Homo sapiens: one gene and its partners. The protein of the gene in region 5 purifies or fractionates together with the protein of the main gene of each other region. This does not show direct contact. Each region holds a gene or a part of one and is shown on either strand. Other genes may lie near its edges. The genes, in order: ACAT1, HNRNPUL1, UTP14A, SON, SAFB, ATF1 and SEPTIN7.

What was found.
Region 1: the proteins of SAFB (region 5) and ACAT1 fractionate together in Homo sapiens (co-fractionation; one large-scale study listed by BioGRID). This does not show direct contact.
Region 2: the proteins of SAFB (region 5) and HNRNPUL1 fractionate together in Homo sapiens (co-fractionation; one large-scale study listed by BioGRID). This does not show direct contact.
Region 3: the proteins of SAFB (region 5) and UTP14A fractionate together in Homo sapiens (co-fractionation; one large-scale study listed by BioGRID). This does not show direct contact.
Region 4: the proteins of SAFB (region 5) and SON fractionate together in Homo sapiens (co-fractionation; one large-scale study listed by BioGRID). This does not show direct contact.
Region 6: the proteins of SAFB (region 5) and ATF1 purify together in Homo sapiens (co-immunoprecipitation; one large-scale study listed by IntAct). This does not show direct contact.
Region 7: the proteins of SAFB (region 5) and SEPTIN7 fractionate together in Homo sapiens (co-fractionation; one large-scale study listed by BioGRID). This does not show direct contact.

What each region holds. Positions count from the first base shown.
Region 1 is NC_000011.10:108,124,440-108,128,561, forward strand, and holds part of ACAT1 (acetyl-CoA acetyltransferase, mitochondrial isoform b precursor), read left to right. Parts: intron 1-3,446; exon of another isoform or gene 3,447-3,540; intron 3,541-4,122. UniProt on the Homo sapiens protein: This is one of the enzymes that catalyzes the last step of the mitochondrial beta-oxidation pathway, an aerobic process breaking down fatty acids into acetyl-CoA.
Region 2 is NC_000019.10:41,287,954-41,292,075, reverse strand, and holds part of HNRNPUL1 (heterogeneous nuclear ribonucleoprotein U-like protein 1), read right to left. Parts: intron 1-4,122.
Region 3 is NC_000023.11:129,912,338-129,916,459, reverse strand, and holds part of UTP14A (U3 small nucleolar RNA-associated protein 14 homolog A), read right to left. Parts: intron 3,882-4,122; exon of another isoform or gene 3,769-3,881; coding exon of another isoform or gene 3,750-3,768; intron 3,151-3,749; coding exon of another isoform or gene 3,065-3,150; intron 1-3,064. UniProt on the Homo sapiens protein: May be required for ribosome biogenesis.
Region 4 is NC_000021.9:33,570,301-33,574,422, forward strand, and holds part of SON (protein SON), read left to right. Parts: intron 1-2,250; exon of another isoform or gene 2,251-2,330; intron 2,331-3,007; coding exon 3,008-3,155; intron 3,156-4,122. UniProt on the Homo sapiens protein: RNA-binding protein that acts as a mRNA splicing cofactor by promoting efficient splicing of transcripts that possess weak splice sites.
Region 5 is NC_000019.10:5,660,646-5,664,767, reverse strand, and holds part of SAFB (scaffold attachment factor B1), read right to left. Parts: intron 3,251-4,122; coding exon 2,960-3,250; intron 747-2,959; coding exon 609-746; intron 372-608; coding exon 329-371; intron 1-328. UniProt on the Homo sapiens protein: Binds to scaffold/matrix attachment region (S/MAR) DNA and forms a molecular assembly point to allow the formation of a 'transcriptosomal' complex (consisting of SR proteins and RNA polymerase II) coupling transcription and RNA processing.
Region 6 is NC_000012.12:50,798,258-50,802,379, reverse strand, and holds part of ATF1 (cyclic AMP-dependent transcription factor ATF-1), read right to left. Parts: intron 1-4,122.
Region 7 is NC_000007.14:35,880,629-35,884,750, reverse strand, and holds part of SEPTIN7 (septin-7), read right to left. Parts: intron 2,268-4,122; coding exon 2,175-2,267; intron 861-2,174; coding exon 764-860; intron 1-763.

The DNA of each region.
Region 1 (4,122 bases), on a different chromosome or scaffold from region 5:
TTTAGTAGGGACGGGCTTTCACCATGTTGGTCAGGATGGGCTCGAACTCCTGACCAGCTCACCAGGTGATCCACCTCTGATGATCTGCCCACCACAGCCTCCTAAAGTGATTACAGGTGTGAGCCACCACACCTGGCCCCCTTCCCTTTTTCTAATCTTACCCTAGTACACTCAGTTCCCCCGCAGCCAGAGTGGTCTTTTTATAACATAAAAGCTTTCAGTGGCTTGTCATTGCCCATAGGCCAGAATCTAGACCCTTATGATCTGCTGGGCCCTACTTAGTTCTGTGGCCTCAGCTGCTGCCGTGCTCACTCTGCTTTTGCCACAGGACCCTTCTTTCTATACTTAGTATGTGTGCCAATTTTGTTCCGAATTCGTGGCCTTAGTCCTACGTGTTCCTGATGCCTCAAATGTTCTTTTCCTGGATCTTTCCAAGGATGACTCTTTAACATTCATTTCTCAGCTCCATTAACATTGCTAGAAGGCCTTTTTTGACTCTCCCATGTAAAGTAGGCCGTCAGTTACTCTCTAGTTCATGATCAATTTTGCTGGTTTCATAACATTTACTGTAGCTGAAATTTTGTTTCTCTGAGTTATTGGTAACTTTCAGACTGTCTTCAAATATTTGTTTTGTGTCTGCTGCCATCACTGGGATAGAAAATAAATAAAATCAGTCTCTTCTTGGAATTCACAGTCTAGTGAGGAGAAAAGCCACCTGAGGGTTACAAAATTATATATTCTGGAACAATTAGAATGTGCACGGGCGTTGTGGAAGCTGAGATAGGAGTGCTGACCTCTGCCTGGCATGGCTGAGCCCTCCCTGAAAGATAATTGTGTTATGTAGATAAAACTTAATGGGTTGTGTTCATTCAGCATGTATTATTATACACTATATGGTTCAGTGTCCTGACCATACTATAATTTTGTCATTCGTTTCTGATATTGAAGGAGCGCTAGGCACTGTGCTAAGTCATAGGGATGTAACAGTGAGCAAGAGACACCATCCCGCCATCAGGAAGCCTGTATTATGTTGGAGGGGTGGATAATAAAACAAAGATGTGAACCACATACTTACAGTGTAAGAGGTGCTTTGAAGGAAATAAAGATATTCATATAAAAGAGAGGAAAAAGTAGAGGGTAACTTTAAATAGAGTAGTTAGGGTGGACCACTCTGGGAATGTGTCATTAGAAAAGACATGAAGAATAGGCTGGGTGTGGTGGCTCACGCCTGTAATCCCAGCACTTTGGGAGGCTGAGGCGGGCAGATCACCAGGTCAGGAGATCGAGACTATCCTGGCTAACAAGGTGAAACCCTGTCTCTATAAAAATGCAGAAAATTAGCCAGGCGTGGTGGCGGGCGCTTGTAGTCCCAGCTACCTGGAAGGCTGAGGCAGGAGAATGGCGTGAACCTGGGAGGCGGAGCTTGCAGTGAGCCGAGATCGCGCCACTGCACTCCAGTCTGGGTGACAAAGTGAGACTCCGTCTAAAAAAAAAAAAAAAGAAAAGACATGAAGAATAAAAATGAGCCAGCCATGGAGAGCTGGGAAGACTTTTTGTTTTGTTTTGTTTTTGATTTTTTTGGAGACAGGATCACACTCTGTTGCACAGGCTAGAGGGCAGCGGCGCGATCTCGGCTCACTGAAACTTCTGCCTCCTGGATTCAAGCGATTCTCCCACCTCAACCTCCCAAGTAGCTGGGACTACAGGTGCCCACCCCCACACCTGGCTAATTTTTGTATTTTTAGTAGACACGGGGTTTCACCATGTTGGCCAGGCTGGTCTCAAACTTCTAATCTCAAGTGATCCACCTGCCTCGGCCTCCCAAAGGGCTGGGATTATAGGCATGAGCCACTAGGCCCGGCCTGAGGAGACTATTACTGGCAGAGGCACACTGCAGAGACCTTGAGGTATCGGGATAGGGTTTAGAACAAAGAGATGCCAGTGGCTGGCACAGAGCAAGAGTGATGTAAATTTGGAGAGAAAACCTAGAGCCAGATCATGCAGGTTCTTGGAGGATGAGGTAAAGAATTTGTATATAATTCCAAGAGCAATGAAAAGCTGTTAAATTATTTTAAGCAGTAGAGTGATATGATCTGATTTACATTTTTCAAAGCTGGAGGGACTGTAGAGAGGTGTCAGGGGAGGCAGGGAACTAGGTAGAAGGCCATTAATAGGAACAAGAGATGGTGGCTTGGACTAGGTGGCAGCAGTAGACATGAGGCAGAGTGGACGAATTTAGTTATGTTTTGGACGCTGTTCACAGTATCTGGATTTTAGGGATTGCAATAAAGGGAAGGATGAAGGATGATTTTGGCTTGAGCACCTGAGAATACCGGCAACAAACAGGTTTTCTTTTTTTTTTTTTTTTTTTTGAGATGGAGTCTTCTCTGTCACCCAGGCTGGAGTGCAATGGCGCAATCTCAGCTCACTGCAACCTCCACCTCCCGGGTTTAAGCAGTTCTCTTGCCTTAGCCTCTGGAGTAGCTGGGATTACAGGCGCGTGCCACCATGCCCTGTTATTTTTTTATTTTATTTTATTTTTATTTTTTTGTATTTTTGGTAGAGACGGGGTTTCAGCATGTTGGCCAGGCTGGTCTGGAACTCCTGACCTCGTGATCCGCCCCCCTCGGCCTCCCAAACTGCTGGGATTACAGGGGTGAGCCACTGCACCTGGCCACAAACAGGTTTTCTAGGGTTGGAAATTGAGAGCTATGATTTGGACATTCACCTGCAGCTGTCAGGTTGGCGCTTGGGTGTGAGTCTGGTGGTCAGTTGAAAGGTCAGGGTTGGAGATAGAAATTTGGAAAATCATCAGCACATAGAAGCCTTTTTTTTTTTTTTTTGAGACAGAGTCTCACTCTGTCACCCAGGCTGGAGTGCAGTGGCGTGATCTTGGCTTACTGCAAGCTCCACTTCCCGGGTTCACACCATTCTCCCACCTCAGCCTCCCAAATAGCTAGGGCTACAGGTGCCCGCCACCACGCCTGGCTAATTTTGTTTTTGTATTTTTAGTAGATATGGGGTTTCACCGTGTTAGCCAGGATGGTCTCTATCTCCCGACCTCGTGATCTGCCTGCCTTGGCCTCCCAAAGTGCTGGGATTACAGGCGTGAGCCACTGTGCCCGGCCTCATAAATGCTTTTTAAAGCCATGGGACTGGATATAACTAAGGATATAGTGAAGTTAAATTAAAAGAGGCCTGGAACAAAGCCCTGGGACATTCAGCACTTGGAGGTTGGAAGGGGAAGATGAGATAGTAAAGGAGACTGAGGTAAATATGACTAATGAGGTAGGAAGGAGTCCACGTTTGTAATGGAAGCCAAGACAAGGAAGGGTTTCTGCAGTGGATTATACATATTACCTCATTTTATTCTCATAACAGCCTGTGGAGGGTATTTAAGAAAACCAAGGTAAGTGTGTCTAAGTAACTTGCTCAAAAATACTCAGCTTGCAGGGCACAGTGGCTCACGCCTGTAATCCCAGCACTTTGGAAGGCCAACGCAGGAGGATCGCTTGAGCCCAGGAGTTTGAGACCAGCTTGGTAAGATAGTGAGACTCTGTCTCTACAAAACAAACAAACAAAGAATACTGAGCTGGTAAGCCCAGGCTCTTAACTGCTCAGCATATTTCTCAAAGAAAGGTGAGCCCAGTCTTGCTGATGTGTTAAAAGGTTAAGTGAGACAATTATAGCGAGTTGGATTTTGCTACACAGACATTGCTGATGTTGCTCAGAACCAACAGTGGTAAACTGGCAGAAATAAAATCCTGATCTGAGTGGGTTGAACTGTAAAGAGGAGGTGAGGACAAGCAAATAGACACTGTAGGTAACCTGGAGAACCTTTCTTGCCAAAGAGAACTAAAGTAAGGTGAGGCCATGTGCAGTGGCTCATGCCTGTAATCCCAGCACTTTGGGAGGCCGAGGCAGGCGGATCACCTGAGGTCAGGAGTTCAAAATCAGCCTGGCCAACGTGGTGAAACCCTGTCTCTACTAAAAATACAAAAATTAGCCGGGCGTGGTGGCGCATGCCTGTAGTCCCAGGTACTCGGGAGGCTGAGGCAGGAGAATTGCTTGAACCTGGGAGGCAGAGGTTGCAGTGAGCTGAGATCGCACCACTGCACTCCA
Region 2 (4,122 bases), about 36 Mb from region 5:
AATGTCCAGCCCAAAGTCCTCCTTGCCTAAGACCCCAAAGTTGGTGGATATGAAGCAAGTAAGCAAGAGTTTTTTTTTTTTGTTTTTTTTTTTTTTGAGACAGGGTCTCACCCTGTCCCCCAGGCTGAGTGCAGTGGCACAGCTAGGGCTCACCGCAACCTCAAACTTCCAGGTTCAAGCAATCCTCCCACCTCAGCCTCCTGAGTAGCTGGGACTACAGGCATGTTCCACACCTGGCTAATTTTTAAATTTTTTTGTAGAGACAGGGTCTTGTTATGTTGCCCAGGCTGGTCTTGAAATCCTGGACTCAAGTGATCTTCCCACCTTGGCCTGCCAAACTGTTGGAATTATAGGCTTGAGCCACTGCACCTGTCCTAAAGCAGGTAATTTTAAGAAGCTCCAAGTATTTGAGTCTTGTGCCTAGACTGAGATGAAGACGAAGGAAAAGGTGGTCCAGTCCTGTCCTGAAAACTGATGAGGAGACAGGTGCAGTGGCTCACGCCTATAATCCCATCACTTTGAGCAGCCAAGGCAGGAGGATGCTTGAGGCCAGGAGTTCAAGTACAGCCTGGGTAACAGAAAGAGACCCCATCTCTACAAAAACAAACAAAAGAAACCCAGAAAGGGCAGTCTATGAATATAACAGATGAAGGAAAGCCACCGCAGGGCCTTTTCGAACTGAGTTCAGCTTGTTCAACATGTTCCCTGAGTTCGTACTCTTTCTGATACACATGTCTGCATAATCTGGGACCGACAGAGCTTAGCGACCAGTGGGGAATGAGACAAGGACACTCTATCATAATTCAGTAAGATGACCTACCTAGAAGCAAGTTTCTGAGGTTTCTCAGTTGCTTGTATATAAGCCTAGCAGTGACAGAACACAAGGTCAGATTGGCTGAGGCATAAAAGATGAGGGGGAAGTAATTCAGGAACAGCTGAAGAGCCATGCAGGGACCACATTCATTTATTCTGTAACAACTACTTATTGAATTGCTAAAGTTAGTAATTAAGATCCCCCCTCTTTTTGTTGAGACGGAATTTCACTCTTGTTGCCCAGGCTGGAGTGCAATGGCGCAATCTCGGCCCACCACAACCTCCGCCTCCTGGGTTCAAGCGATTCTCCTGCCTCAATTAGCTGGGATTACAGGCATGTGCCACCACGCCCGGCTAATTTTGTATTTTTAGTAGACGGGGTTTCTCCATGTTGGTCAGGCTGGTCTCGAACTCCTGACCTCAGGTGATCCACCCGCCTCAGCCTCCCAAAGTGCTGGGATTACAGGTGTGAGCCACTACGCCTAGCCTATGATCCCATTTTAGAAGGTGGATGGCTTCAGTTCTACCATTTACTAACTTGTGGCCTTGGTTAAGTTATTTCATCTTGTTTCTTTATCAAAAAAAGGGGGGCGGGGTAATAATATTTTATACAGCCTATGTTTATTCTAACTGTTAAATGGGCTAGTACATTTAATACACAGTGAGCACACAAGGAATGTGAGCTATCACTGCAAAATGTCAGGCACTGTGCTAGAAATAAGGGGCTGGGACTGAAGTGGTGGGAGGGGACACGGCCTACCTCGGCATGTGAGGGACTCTAATTTACCGCAGGAATTTGAACTTGATGCTGGTGGCAGAGCAGAGTGTCTGACTTATTTTGAATAGAGGAGCAGCCTGCTCAAAACTGTGTTTTGGAAACATTGCTTTGGCTGCAGGATACGAGAGGCTCTTTTTTTTCTTAGTGTTTTTTTGCCTTTTTAAAATTTATATTTTTAAAACGTTTGTTAAATATTTTTCTAAATGCCCATCTCAGAGAAGAAAAGGCTCAAAACTTGAGATTAGATAGCAGACTGAAGCAAAATACACGGTTCGCTTTCTGATATGAAAGTATAATTTCTTTCTCTATTCAGGTGACCACCTTGGGAATTGCCCTTCAAGAAGCGACAGAAGCACCCTCCCTTGAGGAGCTTCCTCATTAACCTCCTCAGTGCTCACAGGGCACAGCTCTGTGTCAGAGGCCCTCATGCCTGTTCATCTCTAAGCATGCACCCACGTCAAGACCATGGAGAGCGGCTGGATGTGGTGGTTCACGCCTGTAATCCCAGCATTTTGGGAGGCCGAGGTGGGCAGATCATGAGGTCAAGAGATCAAGACCATCTTGGCCAACATGGTGAAACTCCGTCTCTACTAAACATACAAAAATTAGCTGGTCATGGTGGCGAGTGCCTGTAATCCCAGCTACTCAGGAGGCTGAGGCAGGAGAATCACTTGAACTAGGGAGTTGGAGGTTGCAGTGAGCCGAGATCATGTCACAGCACTCCAGCCGGGCAACAGCAAGACTCCTTCTCAAAAAAAAAAAAAAAAAAAAGACCATGGAGAGCAGGTATGACTGTTGGTGTTAGTTAGCCTTCCTTATGGCCACCAGCTTCACTATAGGAACTTCCCATAATGCACAGAAACCGGCGCCCTCAACCAACCCATCTACCACCAACAGAGCCATCTGTCCAAAAGGCAAGTGGAGTTGTGTTGTTGTTCCTGCTGAAACACTCCTGTGTCAGTCCCAGGCCTAAAGACCCAAACTCCTGAAGCCTGGCATAATTCAGAGCCTGCCATTTTTATAGCCTGGTGTCTCACACCTCTTTCTGTTGTCCCTAGGCTCTAAGTATCATACTCTTTATGGTTTGCTGAAATGGGTTATTCTGTTCTCCACTTGGAAGGCTGTTTTACCTTTTTGTTTTGCAAATTGAGGACTTGATATTTGACACCAATGTCCTCCCCTCTTGTTCCAGGAGACCAATGATTTTTACACCCCCACCAACTCCTCACCCTGAGCCTTTTTAAAGTTGTGGTATCTTCTGAACAAAGAAAACTATATAAGGAATCTTAAGACTGGATGCAGAGATGTTCTGGTTGAAGCAAGAGTCAAGGCCTAGAGTTCCATACTGCCACATACCAAAAGAACCTCATACTCTGAAAGAACAGACTTTGGCAAACACTGTCACACAGTGACAAGTTAAATTACTGCAACCTGTTTGGAGTGTAGTCTTGGTGGTAGCTATGAAAATTTAAAAATATACCTTTGACTTAGAATCTAACTTTCAAGAAGGAATACAACTACATTCCCACAAGAATGCAAAATTCTATGTGCAAAATGCTCATGCCAGCACGGAAAATGTGCTCCAATGGGGAAGTAGGAGTGGCTAAATTGCACAGGAGATCCATATGTGGGGCTACAAAAAGATCTCCAAGTTACTCCAGTAAATGGAAAAAAGACAAGCCGCATTTATCTGTTCCAGGAAACAACTTTCACAGCCACTAACAGGAAGACGGGCTAAATTAAAGCAGGGTACCCAAACCCCTGCATCAGAATACTAGACAGCCATTACAGTCACTAAATACAAAGCTGCAAAAGTAACGACATGTCCACCAAAGGGAGGCGCTAGGTTAAATCAATTATGGTACAGTCATACAATGACTACAGACAATATAAAAGTACAAAGAAGCTCTCTTGGTAGTACCATAAAAAGATCCCCACCAAGGCCGGGCATGGTGGCTCACGCTTGTAATCTCAGCACTTTGGGAGGCCAAGGAGGGCAGATCACCTGAGGTCGGGAGTTCGAGACCAGCCTGACCAACATGGTGAAACCCTGTCTCTACTAAAACTACAAAATTAGCCGGGCATGCTGGCGCATGCCTGTAATCCCAGCACTTGGGAGGCTGAGGCAGAAGAATCACTTGAATCTGGGAGGCGGAGGTTGTGGTGAGCCAAGATCATGCCATTGCACTCCAGCCTGGGCAACAAGAGCAAAACTCTGTCTCAAAAAAATTAAATAAATAAAAAGACCCCCAAGACATACAAGTTAAAAAAAAAAAAAAAAAGATGAAACCCCGAGTACCAGTGGGTTCACATGCTGGGGAGGGTATATGTGAAAAATGGGTGGGGCGGGAGGGGGGGTGTCTAAAGAAGACTTTACACTGTATCCCCTTTTACATTCCTCGATTTTTTTTTGGAAACCCTATTCTTGAAAAAATCAATTCACAATGATTAACTATTAAGAAACAACTTTAACTGAGCTAGATCTATATATTGTCTGTGTGGACAGGGAAAGATGGCCAAGATTTACTCTT
Region 3 (4,122 bases), on a different chromosome or scaffold from region 5:
TAAGTGACTGGGGTAGGGAGTTATGCTGTTAACTGAGTTGCAGAATGAAGGGGGTGGTATAGGTTTTGGAAGTCTGGGGAAAGGAAATGCGAAGCTTACTTTGGACTGGACTAAGTTTAAGGTGCATATGGGGGACCCAGGTGATCCCTGCTAGTCACATGGAATATGAGACTGGAGCTTCAAAGAAGGGGTTGAGAGTGATAGTCGAAAGTTATGAAATTTTCACTCCTGTAATCCCAGCATTCTGGGAGGCCGAGGTGGGCGGATCACGAGGTCAGGAGATCGAGACCATCCTGGCTAACACGGTGAAACCCCGTCTCTACTAAAAAATACAAAAAATTAGCTGGGCGTGGTGGCGGGCACCTGTAGTCCCAGCTACTTGGGAGGCTGAGGCAGGAGAATGGCGTGAACCCGGGAGGTGGAGCTTGCAGTGAGCCGAGATTGCACCACTGCACTCCAGCCTGGGCGACAGAGCAAGACTCCGTCTCAAAAAAAAAAAAAAAAAAAAGTCATGGAATTTACAGAGCAAGAATAAAAAGGACTAAGGAAAGCCAGAGAGAGAAAATACCCAGAGTATATCACAGAAGCTAGAGGGGAGAGATTTTTAGAATGAAATGTGCCAATGGTGTCAAATATGCTAAAGACTAAGAGGGCTTGGGATTTGGCAATTCGGAGGCCCCTCACTAATGCCTTTTGAGAGAAGTTTCAGTAGGGCAGTAGGGGAAGAAGGTGAGAGAGAGGAGGCAGCAGTGGAGACAGACCAGCTCTTCCCCAAACACATTTCTCATCAGATAACAAGATTTGCCTCCCCTGTTAAAAGCTTAAAATTCAATTTTTTTGAAATTTTAATAAAATCAGTTTGTACACCCTAAGTTAAATTAGATCCAACAGGTGTCTTCACCATTGTTTCATAGCCTTTTTTTTTTTTTTTTTTTGAGACAGAGTCTCGCTCTGTCGCCCAGGCTGGAGTGCAGTGGCACGATCTTGGTTCACTGCAAGCTCCGCCTCCCAGGTTCATGCCATTCTCCTGCCTCAGCCTCCCAAGTAGCTGGGACTATAGGCGCCCGCCACCGTGCCCAGCTAATTTTTTATATTTTTAGTAGAGACGGGGTTTCACCGTGTTAGCCAGGATGGTCTCGATCTCCTGACCTTGTGATCCACCCACCTCAGCCTCCCAAAGTGCTGGGATTACAGGCGTGAGCCACCACGCCCGGCCCATAGCCTTTATTTTTATTTTTTATTTTTGAGACAGAGTCTCACTCTGTTGCCCAGGTTGGAGTACAGTGGCCCAACCTTGGCTTACTGCAACCTCCGCCTCCTGGGTTCAAGCGATTCTGGTGCCTCAGCCTCTTGAGTAGCTGGGATTACAGGCATAAGCCACCACGTCCAGCTAATTTTTTAATATTTTTTAGTAGAGACGATGTTTTGCCACGTTGGTCAGGCTGGTCTCAAACTCCTAACCTCAGGTGATCCACCCGCCTTAGCCTTCCAAAGTGCTGGGATTACAGGCGTGAGCCACCACATCCGTCTGGCCTGTTTCATAGACTTTAAAATGCTAAAGCATGTTGTGACTCTCCGATCTCCAGTAGGGGCATGCAGCATTTTCTAGCAATGCCTCCTCTCCTCCTCTTGTGAAGGCATAATGAGAGACTAAGGTTTCAAGGAGAATGCCTTGGGAAATACCACTGTAGACAGAGAATAGTGAGGAGAGGGGTGAAAGAAGTTACCTCACAGCATTTCTAGCACTTTGCAGTTTACAAATGCCTTCTCATGCATTATCCCACTTAATTATTTGCAGCTAAACAAAATTTTAGGGAGCTGGACCAAAACTATAGTACAGACTTTCGATTTTCTTTTCTTTTTTTTGGGGGAGGGCGGGGAAAGAGTAGAGGGTTTTTTTTTTTCCTCAGGCTGGAGTGCAGTGGCGTGATCTCGGCTCACTGTACCTTCTGCCTCCTGGATTCAAGAAATTCCCCTGCCTCAGCCTCCTCAGCAGCTGAGACTACAGGCATGTGCTACCATGCCCGGCTAATTTACATATTTTTAGTAAAGACGAGGTTTCACCATGTTGGCCAGGCTGGTCTTGAACTCCTGACCTCAGGTGATCCACCTGCCTCAGCCTCCCAAAGTGCTTGGATTATAGGCGTGAGCCACCGTGCCTGGTCTGAGACTTGATATTCAGTTTCTAGAAATCCTAATACAGCATATACTAGTTGTTGGTACTTTGCAATCTAAGTTGTAAGGAGAGACCTAGGAGTTGCTAGCCACAAAGCACCCTCTGAACTAAGCACTTCCTTATTTCTCTGTGCCCTACTAGCATAATTTCTCAAAAGTCAGTCTTAGAATGAATGAACGGCATGGTATATTCAATGTATGACATCTGAGCCTCACTCTATCTTGAAGAGGTTGTTCTATTCTTAGTGTAACCTCCTCCACTACCATCTAGTTTTTATTTTTTATTTATTTATATATATATTTTGAGACAGAGTCTCATTCTATTGCACAGGCTGGAGTGCAGTGGCACAATCTCGGCTCACTGCAACCTCCGCCTCCCAGGTTCAAGTGATCCTCCTGCCTCAGCCCCCCTAGTAGCTGGGATTACAGGCACACACCACCATGCCCCGCTAATTTTTGTATTTTTAGTAGAGATGGGGTTTCGCCATGTTGGCCAGGATGGTCTCAAACTCCTGACCTCAGGTGATCCACCTGCCTCGGCCTCCCAAAGTGCTGGGATTACAGGCGTGAGCCACCACACCCGGCCCCATCTCGTTTTTAATAACAAACTTGGCATTTTCCTGCTATCTCCAAGATTACACTGTCATTTGGAAAAAGCAAGGTGGAGGACAGTGTGTAGTAGCATGCTACCCTTCTTTTTATTTAAAAAGGAGGTAAACATGAATATAGAAATAAAACTCTAAGACAACAACAACAGCAAACTTATGCAAGTGGTTACTTCTGGGTGAGTATGGGGGTAAAAATGATCAGATGGGGCACGGGTGGAATCAAACTTTTCACTACATATCTTCTATGCTTTTTTATTTTTGAATCCTACAAATTGTATTACCTCTGATTTTTTTTTTCTAAAGTCTCCCTTCATCCTGCAGCCACACTTTAAACCTGATCTCTTTTTCATGTAGAAAAGGAAGCCTCCTAGAAAGAGAATGGTAGTGACTTCAGCAAAAACATCAGAAACAGCTTATCCCCATAATAAGCAACTACTCGCTCAATTTCTAGCTATTGTGGCAAGCAATGTTTACTTTGATTAGCTTTAATTAGCTCAACTTCCCAACGCCTAAGAAACTACCATTCTTGGGTTTTTGGAAAGTAAAGAGGAGAAGCACAAAGAGGGCATCTATTTAAGACTAATCAGCCCATTATAGACTCCATACCAATGGTGTATTGGAAAAGTAGGCTAGCTGTTCTAAAGCAGTTATTCGGACTAAAAACCGGACTTCAGGGACCAACATAGGATTTCCAACTTCTAATTTTGCCAAGAGCATAACTACCATTTCACCCCCAATCCCATCATTTACTACCACCATCATTTCATAGAAGAAAAGATATTTCAACACCATTAAAATAGAATAACCTCATAATAAAAAAGAACTGGCAACATTACACCCACCAAACAAACATACTTAGAATTATCCTTTTGCTTCAGACACAAACTTTGTTAGGGGTCAGTGTTTGGGAAACCCAGCTCTAAAACATCAACCCCTGCCCTGCAGCTCAGAGTCATAGTAAGTTACCTGCTGAAGTTCTAGTCATTGCCAGCAACACATTATATTTTAATGCGGTATTCCTGTACAAGCAAAGTTTGGCTTCTGTTGTTCACATATCCTCACTAAGGCATCATTAATGTTATCGAGTTCCTGATTTCCCTAGGATCAGAATGTGGCTTTAAATGCTTTTTAAAAACTGGGGTAAAAGAAAGAAAACATTATTATGTTCCTGCTATACGGGCAATCACATGGTTTAACACAAAAACATGGAAATAGCAAGTACTGTATACTACAAGCAGATGAAAAGTGACACAGAGACCGGGCGCATTGGCTCATGCCCGTAATCACAAAACTTTTGGGAGACTGAGGTGGGCGGATCATTTGAGGTCAGGAGTTTGAG
Region 4 (4,122 bases), on a different chromosome or scaffold from region 5:
CTGAATTTCTGAAAAATGAGACATTGGTTGCTTTGTGTATTTTAATCTTGTAACATTTATTTCAATTTTGATAGCTTTATCTTTGTTGATCTTACTAACAAATTAATATGAAACATCATGTATACTCATTATGCCTGCCTTTTTTTGGGAAGTAGTTGCACTGATGTGTATAGTGAGTACACAGTTAGATTCATTAAGAAATTACAATTTCTGCAGTTTGCTGAGGGTTGGTGTTAGAATAAAGGGTGAAAATGTATATAGCAAAATATTTTAAAGATTGGATTAATCTTGGACTTCTATATTATAGTTACTATGAAAGTGATTTATATAATATTTGAAAAAATGTCTTTCATCTTTGGAAGAACTATAAATGTACATCTATTTCTTTAGTTTTAATTCTTTAATACTATTTAGTCTTGAAGCTAAGTACTCAGCCAGTATTTCAGGAAGTTAGAAATAAAGCTTATGGGTGTTAAAATAGGCACATAATACAGAGTCATGTACACTGCTAGGTAGAAACTTCTGAATGTGCTTCCATTACAAAATTTTGGTCTTTATCTAATGATGTGCTGATCCATAATGTTTGTATACTTATAAATGTGTTAATAACTTAAATAACTTTTAAAAAGTGAATCTTTTACTGACTCAATTGGTTTTCCCCTAAAATAATTTCTTCTGGTATTTGCAGTCTTGTAGGCAGTTAACAGACTTTAATAACTTTAAAATGTTTAGTAGCACCTTGAAAAAAGGCTTCAACTTTATATTTTATGTAAGATATACTTTGGGAAGCAAATTATTTTGATAAATTATGAGATAAAGATATGTTCAGACCAAATTTTAAATTATAGATAAAAGTAGCACTTAAAGGAAAAGATTCATTTGTATAGAATTACTGAAGAATATTTGATGCTAGTATCAACTAAAAAAGAAACTTTTGAAAATTAAAAATGGGCCACAACATGTAGAAGTCATTAGGCAGCTGAAAATTTAGGATGTATGATCCATGTTAAATATCACAAATATTGTCTACTCATTAAATGTTTAGTTGTGTTTAGAAAACCTGTCAAACGATCATTTTGGCTCTTCTTTAGTATAGTCCAGCATCTGCCTTATGTGTTAAAAAACACATGGAATACCAACATCCTCCGTGTTCTTTTTAGTTTGTTGCAGTGTATTTTTAGATTACAAAAAAAGCAAAGTTTTATCAGTAGTCTCATTAATCAGTAAAACATTTAAAGTAGTTCGTTTAAAAGAAATTTTATTTCTAGAATGGAATGATTTGGATGTGACCTGATAAATACAGTTTGTTATTGTGGTCTCATTAAATTAATCAGCTTTTTCACACTGGGGTAAAGAAACAGATGATGATACTAGGGAATGGAAACAAAATTGGAAACCTGGGTTATTTGGGGATTTATATTGTACTCTGCACAGTTGCCCTTTTTTTTAGGCGTGTTCCCTGGAAAAGAGGGACGGATGAACCTGGAAGTAAGTAAAAGACATTCTAGGTGTGTAGCATCAAGGCAGTTAATATCCAAGCATCAGCTTTCTCTTTATACATCTACACTGCATGGCCTGCACCAAATAAGGAACTGAACCAGGGGTATGTTTTTACCTCCACAGCTGCCTCCTTCCATCAGAGCACCTTGATGAACTTAATGTCTAGTCACACGTCATTGGCATGTTTTCTCCCCAGCATTTAATTACAAAGCTGGGAAACAAAAGATGATAGATACAGTTTTACTACTGCATACAAACATTTCTTTTTTACATTCAGTATTAACTTATCAATATAGGAGATGTGCATACTATTTCCTGAGCTACTGAAGTTTTTTTACTCTCTCTGTTGATAAGTTAATGACTTTTGCTATATTATATATTTATATATATATATATATATATATTTGGTAAGAGAACATAAAAACCTAAAATTTAGTAACAAGGGGAAAATAAAGCATGATTTGGAGATATGTTTCAAATTTTTAAAAAATGACCATAAAGATCAACAGTACAACTTAATACTGTTTGCTATATGTACATGGATGCCCTTTAATAAGAGGCATTGAATATTTCTTAACCTGTAAAAATAACTGTTGACCATGCTAATGTATATATACTTGTGCATCTTAGGACATTAAGTGGTTTGCTGCTTTGATGGAAATTATGGTTCAGTGGGTTGGATACAAGAGAGATGACTGTTCACAGAATAACCTGTGAACTTTCACCCCTCTGTATGGAAACTTGTTTCAGGGCCAAATCCTTGTAGCTGTCTTCTTGCCCCGGTCAGTGCCAGCCGTACTATTCACAACACTGCTGCTACCGAGGCCTAGGTATGTAAACATTTAAGGAGTTTTTTAAAAGTCTTTTAACATCAAGCTAGGTTTTAAAAGAATTCAAATTCATTTTGGCATACTTACAGGATATTTTATGTGATTGTTTTCTATTTGTTACTGTGTAAATTTCAAGAGTTTTTTTTTTTTTTTCTGCTTTAGGGATTTTCTAAGTAAAATATTTATACTTGCTTTATAGTAGAATGGGGAAGAAAACTTTGGATGACAACAGTATGCTTCTTCAGTGTCTAAACTATTTCTAAGTGATTTCTGGGCTTTATTCATAAACTAGGTACACCTGGGACAATTAATATCATTGATTGTTTTAACATTGCCTTCTTTTTATTTTGCAAGCTAAGAAGAGATACCAGTGAACCTAAATAGTGGACGAAAACAGGAGTGTTCTAATTTTTTTTTTTTGAGGGGGGCACGAGGGCTACTGTTTCAAAACTGCCATTTACTTGTCTTATTTGACTTCCAAAATACTATTACGTTAATGTGCAAATAATCAGAACATACACACTACAGTATGTATAAAGTATAGAGGAATTTACATTTAATTGCTATAACAGATCTAGAAGTAAAGTAAGATTCCTCTTTTTAGAAAGTAAACAATGAATCTGTCACCAAGTTCTAACTGTAAAATGGGGACATTTTACCTTTCTTTCTTTGGATAGGATCAGTTCTTAAGAGCAGCCCCGGTAACTGGAGGAATGGGAGCCGTTTTGATGAGAAAAATGGGCTGGAGAGAAGGAGAAGGATTAGGAAAAAACAAAGAAGGCAATAAGGAACCCATCCTAGTTGATTTTAAGACAGACCGAAAAGGTAACAAGTTCTTTTTTGGAATGTTTATTAACGTCTCCTTTAACATTACCTTTAATATATCCTTTTGAACCCAGTGATACTGAACTGAAGGCACTTCTTGTATATATACAGGTATTTGTCAGAAAAAACATTAACCCCTTTTGGGGTTCACAGAGCAGCTTATTTTTATATAACTATGGATAGAGACACCAGTTTGAACTTTTAAAAGGCACCTTTTGTTATGCTAGTTGCTAAATATGGAAATGTGTATATATCTAATTTTATTATTACACCTCCAAATTCAACTGGATTTCATGTTTAGAAAACAGGATTTCCATTTTATTTTCTCTTGACAAGGAACCATCCTTTTTTCTAGAGTTTAGTTTATTTTTTGTTAGATATTTTAGCACATCTTCATTATTTCCTATTACAATACTGGTTTAGTCTAGATTTCATAAACCCTGTTTGCTTTTTTCTTCCAAGCTCAGTAGTTAAGTTGGGTTAGAGTATAGTAGACCAGCTGCTGACAATAATGTTACTTCTTCCTGTTGCCTTGTGTTAAGGCATCTTGGAACTGTTAGCATTGACTGTATTTTCCTTTTACCTTCAGATACCTGGGCAGGGCAGCACTGTGTCTTCTATGTAGCTTGTATGTAGTTGCTAAGTATTTAATCATTCCCACAGATGATAGCTAATTGGCGTCTTTTAAATAACTTCTTCCCTTGGAATAATGTAAGTGGAATCATGAGAGGCTTGCCAGCTCAGTATGATTTTTGTATAGCTTGTTTAAACCTCATTTATAAAAGCTGACAAATGTAAAACTGGGATTTATTTTCATCTTTGTAATCAAACAGTAAGTTGAAGCTAACTTCAATAGTTAAACTGTCTTAATGAATTTGGAAATGAACTAGCTCTGCACCAAATACTTTGATGTTAAGTATTGTACAATTTCAGGAAGCATTGTCCTTGGAATTGTGGGACATGGCCT
Region 5 (4,122 bases):
TGTGCGGCTCACTAGACACTTCCCAGCAGAGCCAGGTCACATCCCAAGGTTCCCTGGCACTGTTGCACATGTGTGGTGAGTGTGGCACACAGAACCCCAGGGTCAAGGCTAAAAACAGCTTCAGAGTAACTGTTTGGACTGACAGCCAAGACTAACCCCAAATAATCCCAAATTTCCATTCCACAAACCTAGACTTTTCTAGTGCTTTACTTTTCTCTTTCCTCATTTTGCCTCTTGCTCAAAGAAAGGGCAGGAAGAAGGCACGCTGAAGGGAAAAGAACCCATTCTATGGGAAATTCTGTGGCTACCACTGTAGCTTCAGACTTACCTGTCCTTCTCGTTCTCCCATCATTGACCTTGAACCTTCTCTCCTGAAAAGGCAATTTAAATCAAACCGTAAGGGGAAGAAGAGGCTTGTTCACAAAGAGAGGACCATCAGGCCCCCAATGAAAAGCATAATTTCCCTAACTGAAGGCAGGAGACCTGCGGGTCTGACTCAGCATACATCTGATGAACGGAGTGGGTTCAGAGAGCCCAGGAGTCCTTGTTCTCAGTCAGAATGAGCCAGGAAAAAGAAAACCCGCACGCCCAGCAGGGGCCCAACTGACCTGTCCACCGAGTGGTCGGGGTAGCGGCCGCGGTCCCTGTGGTCAAAGTCGTGGAAGCGGTCCTGGCGGTTAAAGTCAGAATGGTAGCGCTCATCCAGGGCGGCCCGCTTGGCTTCCGGCCAATAGGCATCATCTCGCCTGTGAGGGGACATGAGACAGAGATAGAGGGATCCCCCACCCCAAATGTATCTATCACCTTTGTGGGAGCTGGCCCCTAGCACTTCACAGAACCAGGATGACTTTCACCAAGAGTGTTCTCTCCTATAGGAGGCAAGGTCTGATTTGACCCCAGTGACTGCACAGTTGTTTTGTTTTGTCCCATGCACCCACCTCCCCTGATGAAAAGCGGCCTCGGTTTTCCAAAGAGGGAGCCATTAGTTAAGCAGTCAGTCCTATGGGCTGCCTGCAGATGGCTTCTGGAGCCCTACACAGCCACCTCCGCTCAGGAAGACCACGTGAGCCTCCACCCCGAGGGGCTCTGTCAAGTGCACCTGCCATCTCTCTCGCCCCAAAGCTGACCTCCTGCCCTGCCAGCAGCCCTGGCCATGTACTGCTGCAATACACAGATGACCATAATGAACTGTCATCAGAAGGATTTCGTACCAAAGCATAATAGATCCTAGAACAGTTTACAAGGCCCTTTATAGAAGTTGCATTGTATATATGACCTGGGCTCCTCTTCAACCCATGCAATAGAAAGAAACAACAAACAGCAATTTTTGCCAGGTTGCAGTGCACGTGTAAAGCCTGACACAATCACTGCTGGAATTACACACCTGACTCCTCACAGCAGCCATGCTCAGCATTTTGTGTTCATACCTCCTCTTCAGTATGTTTGAGAAATTAAAATTAATCTTACTGCCGGGCGTAGTGGCTCATGCCTGTAATCCCAGCACTTTGGGAGGCCAAGGTGGGTGGATCACCTGAGGTCAGGAGTTTGACAGCCTGGCCAACATGGTGAAACCCGGTATCTACTAAAAATGCAAAAAATTAGCCGGGTGTGGTAGCACATGCCTATAATCCTAGCTACTTGGGAGAGTGAAGCAGGAGAATTGCTTGAACCCAGGAGGCGGAAGCTGCAGTGAGCTGAGATCACGCCATTGCACTCCAGCCTGGGCAACGAAAGCAAAACTCCGTCTCAAAAAAAAATTTTTTTTTAATTCTTTATTTCTAGAATAAGCAAAAACAAATTACAATGGATTTAAAAAGCCAGGACAAGGCCGGGGGTGGTGGCTTACGCCTGTAATCCCAGCACTTTGGGAGTCTGAGGTGGGTGGATCACCTGAGGTCAGGAGTTTGAGATCAGCCTGACCAACATGGCAAAACCCCATCTCTACTAAAAAAAACAAAAATTAGCCGGGTGTGGTGGTGGGTGCCTGTAATCTCGAATACTAGGGAGGCTGAGGCAGGAGAATCGCTTGAACCCAGGAGGTGGAGGTTGCAGTGAGCAGCGATCGCGCCATTGCACTCCAGCCTGGGCAACAGAGCGAGACTCTATCTCAAAAAAAAAAAAAAAGGAAAGGGCCTTAAAGGAGGTGCAGTAGGGCACGTGTGGCGCTCTCTACGTGCCTGAGCTTCCCTCCTCAGGAGGTCTGTGCCACCCTTGAACCTGGTTAGTTAACCAGCACTACTTTATCCAGCCTCCTGTCTCTAATTTTTTTTTTTTGAGACCGAGTCTCACTCTATTGCCCAGGCTGGAGTGCAGTGGCACGATCTTGGCTCACTGCAACCTCTGCCTCCTGGGTACACGCGATTTTCCTGCCTCAACCTCCCCAGTAGCTGGGATTACAGGCGCCTGTCACCACGACCAATTTTTTGTATTTTAGTAGAGACGGGGTTCTGCCATGTTGGCCAGGCTGGTCTTCAACTCCTGAGCTAAGGCAATCCGCCCACCCTGGCCTCCCAAAATGTTAGGATTACAGGCGTGAACTAGCGCACCCGGCCTATGCTTCCTTTGAATGAAAGATCTCAAGCTGGCCGGTCGCGGTGGCTCACAGCTGTAATCCCAGCATTTTGGGAGGCCGAGGCAGGTGGATCACGAGGTCAGGAGATAGAGACCATCCTGGCTAACACAGTGAAACCCCGTCTCTACTGAAAATACAAAAAAATTAGCCGGGAGAGGTGGCAAACGCCTGTAGTCCCAGCTACTCGGGAGGCTGAGGCAGGAGAATGGTGTGAACCCGGGAGGCAGAGCTTGCAGTGAGCCAAGATCGGGTCACTGCACTCCAGCCTCCGCGACAAAGCAAGACTCCGTCTCAAAAAAAAAAAAAAAAATCTCAAGCTAACTGGACTGTGAGGTCCCTAACACGATTCTGAACGCCACGTGCTAAGGGCAGCATGGATCTGCTTACCGGTCCAGGTCGTAGGGCCGCCGCACCGCGGGCCGCCGCTCCTGCTCATAGCGCAGTTCCTGCTGGCGCCTCAGCTCCTCGCGCTCACGGTGGATGCGCTCCTGCTCGCGCCTGCGCTCGTGCTCCACGTGCATGCGTTCGCGCTCCAGCCGTTCCCGCTCCATGCGCTCCCGCTCCAGCCGCTGGCGCTGGAAGGCCAGCCTCTCTCGGGCAATCTCCAGCCGCTCACGCTCCTCGCGCTCCCACTGCGCCTGCATGCGTTGTTCGCGTTCACTGCGTTCACGCACCCTGCTGCACAACAGTAGAGCTGCAGAAGGGGACCTAGACACCCCCAGCCAGGTCCCAGGGCTGACTTTAAGTAAGACGCTGGGTCGCACAGACTCCAGGGCTGTGCGTCCACTACGTGGTCTGCAGAACCGTACACTCCAGCGGGAAGAAGGCTTCTCGGGCCCACAGGAGCAGCCCAGGAAGATCTCAGGAGTGAGGCCCAGGCTGTGTGTGTGTGATCAGAACTGGGCCTCCTTTCTCCAACATTTCCTGGAGCTTGACAAGTGATTTCAGGAAACAGCCAGTCAAAAATAAGCAACAGGCCGGGCGCGGTGGCTCACATCTGTAATGCCAGCACTTTGGGAGGCTGAGGTGGGTGGATCATGAGGTCAAGAGATCGAGACCAGCCTGGCCAACATGGTGAAACTCTTGTCTCTACTAAAAATACAAAAATTAGCTGGGCATGGTGGCACGCACGCACCTGTAGTCCCAGCTACTCCGGAGGCTGAGGCAGGAAAATCACTGGAGCCCGTGAGGCAGAGGTTGCAGTGAGCCACTGCACTCCAGCCCGGCAACAGAAAAAAAAAAAAAAAAAAAAAAAAAAGCCACAGAGTATATGCTTCATAGCGAGTGAGTGTGAATTGGAACCTTCACTCCCTAGACCACAGGATGAAATGAGTCTTTGTGAGGTGGGGCTAGCAGGCCCCCCAAGTGTAAGGACATTAGCAGCTGTATCTTTTGGATACAGATGACATTTTAGTGCATTTCTCCAGTCTTTGTATATAAAACAGAACAGACAGGAGCCAGGCTGTCTTTTTTTTTTTTTTTTTTTTTTTTGGTAGAGATGGTTGCCCAGGCTGTTCTCGAACTCCTGAGCTCAAAACAATCTGCCCGCC
Region 6 (4,122 bases), on a different chromosome or scaffold from region 5:
CTAATTTTTGTATTTTTAGAAGAGATGGGGTTTCACCATGTTGGCCGGGCAGGTCTCAAACTCCTGACCTCAGGTGATCGCCTGCCTCGGCCTCCCAAAGTGTTGGGATTACAGGCATGAGCCACTGTGCCTGGCCTCCAGTATATGTGTTCTGTTTCTTTTGTTAAATTCATATCTAAGTATAATTTAAATTTATAAATTTAATTTTAAACCTTTTATACTTTGTTATTGTAAATAGAATTGTTTTTAAGTTTCATTTTTGGATTAGTCATTGCTAGTATATGGAAATACAGTTGATTTTTGTTATATTGATCTTATATCCTACAACCTTGCTGGAACTTGTTGATTAGTTCTATTTTAATAATTCTTTAGGATTTTGTATATATAAGATACTGTCATGTACAAAGTGTTTTACTTAGTCCTTTCCAATCAGGATGCCTTTTATTTAATTTATTGACTAATTCCCTGAGTGCAATGTTTAGAAGTGGTGAGAGGGGATATCCACATTATTTTCTTATTAGGATGTTAGTTGTGGGTTTTTCGTAGACCCTTTTTATTAGGTTGAGGAAGCAGCCTTCTATGTATTTGTTGAGCAGTTTTATCATGAAATGGTAACTGGATTTTTGTCAAATGCTTTTTCTGTGTCTTGCGATGATCATATGTTTTTTGTTTTGATTCTATTAATATGATGTATTACATTAATTGATTTTCAATTATTAAACCAATTTTGCATTTCAGGGATAAATCCTGTTTGGTCATGGCATATACTACCTTTTACATGTTGTTGGATTTGGTTTGCTAATATGTTGTCGAGGATTTTTTGTGTCTATATTCATGAAGGATATTGGTCTAGTTTTACAATTGCCTTTTAATTGGTGAGTGTAGGCCATCTTCAGTATTGGCTGATCTTCCACTTTATTATTTGCTTTCTGTTTATTCTGTTTTTAAAATTCTTCTGTGTTCCTGCACCTGCATTATTTTGGATTATTTGAAGACTTTTCAAAATTTAATTTTTAAGCAACTGTATATTTGACTAAATCTTTTTGTGTAGTTTTTTTTTAGTAGTTGCTCTAGGGGTATATAGATACCTAGCTTTTTATAGTCTACATAGAATCACTATTTTACCACTTCAGGTGGAATGTAGAAACCTTACCACCATATTAGAACTGTTTATATTTCCCTCTTTATGTTGTAGATGTCTTATATATTACCTCTGCACACATTAAAAACCCCATCAGAATTTCATAATTTGTTTTCAGCCATCAAATTGATTGATGGATTGATTGAAACAGAGTCTCGCTCTGTCGCCCAGGCTGGAGTGCAGTGGCATGATCTCGGCTCACTGCAACCTCCCAGGTTCAAGTGATTCTCCTGCCTCAGCCTCCCGAGTAGCTGGGATTACAGGCGCCTGCCACCATGCCCAGCTAAGTTTTTATCTTTGTAATAGAGACGGGGTTTTGCTATGTTGGTCAGGCTGGTCTCAAACTCCTGACCTCAGGTGATCTACCTGCCTCAGCCTCCCAAAGTGCTGGGATTACAGGCATGAGCCACCGCGCCCAGCCATCAAATATATTTTAAAGCAGCAGTTCCCAACCCTTTTGGCACCAGGGACCAGTTTCGTGGAAGACAATTTTTCCATGGATAGGGAAGTCAGGGGATGGTTTCAGGATGAAACTGTTCCATCTCAGATCATCAGATATTAGATTCTCATGAAGAGCATGCAACCTAGATCCCTCGCATGGTCACAACACGGTTCACATTCCTATGAGAATCTAATATGCCACTGATTTGACAGGAGGCAGAGCTTGGGTGCTAAGGCTCGCTCACCCGCTGCTCACCTCCTGCTGTGCAGCCTGGTTCCTAATAGGCCACAGACAGGTACCAATCCACGGCCTGGGGTTTGGGGACCCCTATTTTAAAGAATTCAATAGGAGAGGAACTGTCCATTATATTTGCCCAGATATTTCTGTTGCTGTTTCTTCATTCCTTAACTTTCTTTCGTCTTAAGAATTTTCTTAGCAGTTGTTTTACAGCAGGTCTGCTGGCAATTATTTCCCTTAGTTTCCCTTGATGAGAATATTTATTTGACCTCCAAGTCTGAAGGATGTTTTCAGTAGACATAGAATTTTGGGTGCCAAGACCCAGGAGATAATTCTTTTTTCTTTTAGCACTTTAAAAATGCTATTCCATTATCTTCTCACCTCCATAGTTTCTGATGAGCACTCTGTAGTCATTCACAATGTTCTCTTGTAAGTAATGTGCCATTATTCTCTGGCTACTCACAAGATTTCTTTAACTTTAGCTTTCAGCAGTTTGATTATGGTAAGTCTGGGCAATGATTTATTTGTGTTTATCCTGTTTAGAGTTTGCTGAGGTTTTTGAACCTGTAGGTTTACGTCTTTCACCAAATTTGGTAATTTTTCAGCCATTATTTTTTCAAGTATTTTTTCTGCGCTATACTTTTTTCCTCTCTTTCTGAGACTCTAATGACATAAATCTTAGATCTTTAATTATTGTCGCACAGGTCGCTGAGAATTAGATAATTTTCCAATCTCTTTTCTATGTTCAGATTGGATAATATCCATTGAATAATCTTCAAAGTTGATCGTTTTTTCTCTCATTTCCATTCTACTATTGAACCCATCCAATGAGGTTTTATCTCTGTTACTGTGTTTCTTAGCTCTGAAATCTCTATTTTATTCTCTTTATATGCTCTATTTTTGGCCGAGAGTTTATACCTTTCATTTCAAGAAAATTCACTTACTTGTTGGAACAGTTTAATAATAGCTTCTTTAAAGTCCTTGTCATATAATTCCAACATTTGTATCATCTAGGAGTTGGCTTCTGTCAACAGTCTTTTCCCGTGCAAGTTGAGATTTTTCCTTGTTCTTTGATACCAAGTAATTTTGGACTCTTTGAATATTATGCTATCAGACTCTGGGTCTTGTTTAATAAAAAATGTTTTATATTCTTGTTGCATGTGCATGTGTGTATTTGGGACAGGGACTCGTTCTGTCACTCAGGTTGGAGTGCATGGCACAATCATGGCTCACTGAAGCATCAACCTCCTGGGCTCAAGTGATCCTCTGCCCTCAGCCTCCTGAGTAACTGGGACTACAGGTACACACCACCATACCTAGCTAATTTTTGTATTTTTTGTAGAGACAGGATCTCCTTATGTTACACAGATTGGTCTTAAATTCCTGGACTCAAGTAGTCCTCCCACCTCAGCCTCCCAAAGTGCTGGGATTACAGGCATGAGCCACAGACCTAGACTATATTCTTGTTTTAGAAGGTATCAATCTGGTTGTGTCCAGGCCACAAGTTCTGATCAGCCTTCTGTGGGTTGTGGTTCCAATGTCAGTTCAGTTTCCAAAGTCTTTGCAATGCTATTCATATCTATTACACATGTGCACCAGGTAGTGGCCAGTCTAGAATTTGGGCAATGGTGATCTGTCCTATACATAGTTAAGTTCTAAAAGTCTACATATGCTAGGGAAGCCCATTTTTATTCATTTTTGGTAGAAATGTATGAGGTGCTGGATTTAATCAAATACTTTTTTTCCCAGCATTTATTGAGTTGACTGTATTGTTTCTGCCAATTCTCACTTACGTGGTTTATGTCCTTGCACGTTTGATGATTTTTGAGTGAATTCGTATTTGATTTATACTAATCTGTGGCAATCCAGAAAGCTTAACTTTGAGAAGTTTCTTTTCAGATGTTATAGCCTTCCTGAGAGACCCCTACTTAATAAAGAAATCTCAGGTTCAGGCTGGGCATGGTGACTCACGCCTGTAATCCCAGCACTTTGGGAGGCCAAGGTGGGCAGATCACGAGGTCAGGAGATTGAGACCATCATGGCTAACACAGTGAAACCCCGTCTCTACTAAAAAATACAAAAAATTAGCCAGGTGTGGTGGCGGGCGCCTGTAGTCCCAGCTACTCGGAAGACTGAGGCAGGAGAATGGCATGAACCCAGGAGGCGGAGCTTGCAGTGAGCCGAGATTACTCCACTGCACTCCAGCCTGGATGACAGAGCGAGACTCCATCTCAAAAAAAAAACAACAACCATGAAACTACCCAAATTAATCATTATTACTATTGTTCTAAAAAGCCAATGC
Region 7 (4,122 bases), on a different chromosome or scaffold from region 5:
AAATTTTTTTACTCTAAATATGAGATATCAAAAAGGGCAACTTTTGCACTGAGGAAAGAAGACTGTGGATGTTTTAACTGGGCTTACAAATTTCTTCAATCATTCTTGAGGGTCCATGACCATCTGACGTTCCGATAAAAGTGACTGGCCTTCTCTCCAAATGTTTGATTCCAGGTGGTTCATTAGATTCCCTGGGAGCAAACTTTGGGCCCCAGGTAAAGAACCCCTCAATTTTAGTTATGTTTTCAAATATGAAAACAGAAATAGACTTAATGATGAGGCAGGATGCCAGCCAGGGTGGGGCAAGTTGAGTATCTCTTATTTGAAATGCTTGGGACCAGAAGTGTTTTGAATTTTTTTGGAATTTTGGAATATCTGTGCTATACTTACTGGTCGAGCATCCTTAATCCAAAAATCCAAAATTCAGAATGCTCCAGTGAGCGCTTCCTTTGAGCAGCATGTCAGTGCTCAAAACGTTTTATTTTGGAGCAATTCACATTTTGAATTTTCTCTTTAAGAATGTTCAACCTATACTACAACTTTAGGACTTAACACACACTTGCCTGACTTGGTAGGATACAGGTTTGAAAAATACCAATGTACTTAAAGAGAAAATTGAGACTACAAGAACCTGAAATCAGTATTATCCTTGAAAATCTAGACTATATCAATACAGTGTGCATACTGTACTACTTACTATAAATACAAATTTTTAATCAGTTTTGAGATATTTTAGAAAGTCATTCACTGAAGAAAATCTTACCTTCAGCAACACCCCAAGGATACTGCCTTCCTCTGACCCTTTTGCCATTAACTTCAATGATAGTATTACTACCTACCACAGCAAGAGGTAAACGGTCCTATAAAACAAAGTATTCTTGTTCAAATACATCTCTGTAGTCCTCACAAATTCAAAAATAAAAAAAGTTACATTACTCAACAGGTTAGCCAAAAAAAAAAAAAATTTACTTTCGATAGTTTCTGCATTAGTTTTTATAGGCCATTTAACAAATATTTAGTAAACTGCCATCACATGGTATTGCCACCAAGGTAAACAATAAATAAAATTAAATTTTCTCTTTAATGTTAAGAATATTCAAGCATATACTGGTCAAATTATTTACTAAAAATCACTACAGAAAGTTGTCCCATACCTGGGGGGGGATAAAAGGTAAAAACTATATTGGCATTTGGGGGAAAAAAAGCGGGGGGCTAATGACTAGCTTGCCTACTTGATCACAAACCAACTATAACAGTACCTAAACCAGGTAATAGTATATTTGTTAAGCTCTAACTTTGGAAATTCAAATCCTGGTGACTGGATTTGTGTTCATCCATGTTCAGCCCTTCACAATTCTGTGGCTCCCAGAAATACCTAAGCAGCTATTTACAACTGCAGAAATTCTTCACAGGCAATGTATAAGAATTTCATTATTCCAAGATATTTGCCTACATAATGCCATTATTCAGTATACCATTTTTAGGGCCAAAGTACATAGAAAACCATGATAAAATACAGAAAATATGTTGATGTGAATTTTTGGTTGGTTTTTATTGTTTTTAATTGAAACATAATTGTACACATTTGTGGGGTACAGTATGGTATTCTGATAACTTTATACAAATATGTAATGATTGAATTAGGGTAATTAGCATATTTATCAATTCAAACTTATTTTTCTGTATTGGGAACATTCATAATCCTCTTCTAGCTATCTGAAAATATAGACTAAATTACTGTTAACTACAGCCACCCTACAATGCTACAGAACGCTAGAACTTACTCCTCCTATCTAGCTGTAATTTTGGTTGGCTTTTATAGAGACAAAATAAATACATTTTTGTCTGGCAATTAAAACATAACAGAACGAATTCTCTCCTTTCTCATCACTTGTTTTTTAAGAGAAAAAAATTACATAATATGAAAGCCAGTTAATTAAAAACACTTTGAAATAAGAATTGTGTTATTCACCTCAGTAGTTTATACAATTCCTTATTATATATACTAGCTAATCTTCAAAGTTAACTATAAAGTTGAATTCAACATTAAATCTCCCTAGGTATTTTGTAAGCCAACTACTTAAAACACTGATACTTTTGATCTTTCCTGTGGACGCTGTAGTATGTTTTTAAGGCCTCAGATTACTTTAGCGTGTGTACAGGGATGAACCTACCTTTATCTTTTTAACAAGTTTATTTTCTTCTTCATCATCTGTTTCTGGAAATTCGTATATTTTAATTTTATGTTCTTGGATTTCTTTCATTATCTAAAATGGAAGAAGTAGTCAGCAAAAGAGCACCATACATAATTAGTATATTAGTCTTATGTTCATTACATGCCTCTTCGATTCCTATATGGGTCCTTGGTTCCAGATCCTTTACTGTTTTTTAATGATGCAAAGTTGTAATCTAAAATTAAAGTACTACGCTAGTCTTTTTTTTTTTTTTAACTATGAAGTTGATATATAAACACCAAATCCAATTACTTCCGAAGTGTTAAAGTCATATAGCTGTCATACCAAAAGAGTTCCAAAAAGGATGTAAAACTCCAGAAAGGGATTTCTCTGATTGATTTCCACAATAATGACTTTAGGTCATTTATTTACAATGACTGAGATTCTTCCTTTAGATATAAATTCCCAAGTATCTTATTTAGTTGAATAAACAGGGCTAAACTCACGTAAAATTTTTAGTAGAATCTGGCAAAAGTAAGGTAAAACTAAGTACAGCACTGCTCCCTGAACATTCATCAGAAAAATCCTTACATGTACATGTGCATACACACAAATTGAGGAGCAACAGGTGTAAGATTAGGGAAGGACACAGGGAGAAAACACATCCTAGAAATTAAGAAGCTCAAGAATTAATAAGGAGAATGCAGAAACCTAGAGAAGACAACTTATTATTAACATCAGAAATGACCTAGTTCAAATTAAATTATCATGTTCAAAATCACTCCAATTCTAAACAGAATACAGACATCCAAATAATTTTCAACTACCTATCCTTATTTGAACCCATAACAAACCAATGGCTAATATACCTAAACCTAGCTTCCCTGTCTATACTTATATTTTGGTGCAACTTTCTTGGCAAAGGTTCCCAGCAGCTATAAAAGGACCCTGAACAAATTGTGTTACATGGTTACTATAGTAGACAGAAGTAAACAGAAGTAAAATTGTCACTGAAAAAAAATAGGACCACACTTCTTTTACAATTAGGGTACGTACCTATATTTAAAAAAAAAAAAAGAATAAACAAGGAATTGACAAATACATGATGACGAGAAAAATGAGTAATAGTAGCTAGCTCTAAAAGCAATGGTTTTAGTCAGAGGTTGTATATTAAAATGACCTGAGTACAACCACCAGGATGTGACCAATTTGAAAGAAGAGGTCACTTCATATTCATCTTTTTTACCTTTATCAGTAAAAATCCAAATCGAAACACATAATAAACAAAAAGAAATGTATTATATGATAGTGTTTGAAACTTAGAAATAGCACATTACAAAACAAAAATGGGAATGGGTAAGTGTAAAACACAAAAATACTAGATACAGTAAAAACAATGTACTAAAACTTTCTGAAAATTAGTATGAATTTAGCACAACTTCAAAGCAAATTTTAACAGGCTTTTTATAACAGGTTTCAAGGTATTCTGAAATTCATATTGAAAAAGGTGAAAAACAAAGTATTTTGTTACAATAGGACTATATGGACAATAGAGATAATTACAATCTACTTTTAAATATTATATAAAGCTGCTGTGGTTTAAACAATATACTACTGGCCTTTGGACTACTGGAATAGAGAAAGGTTCCAGAATTGACCTTACATTTCATAAAATGTAATATATAACGAACCAAACACAATTAAATTAGAAATATGTGTGACTGTGTAACTCAATATTATTGAGACAACTAGACGTGAGTCTAGAAAAACAGTTTAGTGGCCTTCCAGCTAGCTCAGTCATACAGCATGAGACTCTTAATCTTAGGGTCATAGGTTTGAACAATAACTTAAACTATAAATATCCCGTAAAGTGCACTGAAAACAAAATTAGTGCACTGAAAACAAAAATAAGCAGCAAAAGAGAAAACAGAAAAAATATTGTGAAAAT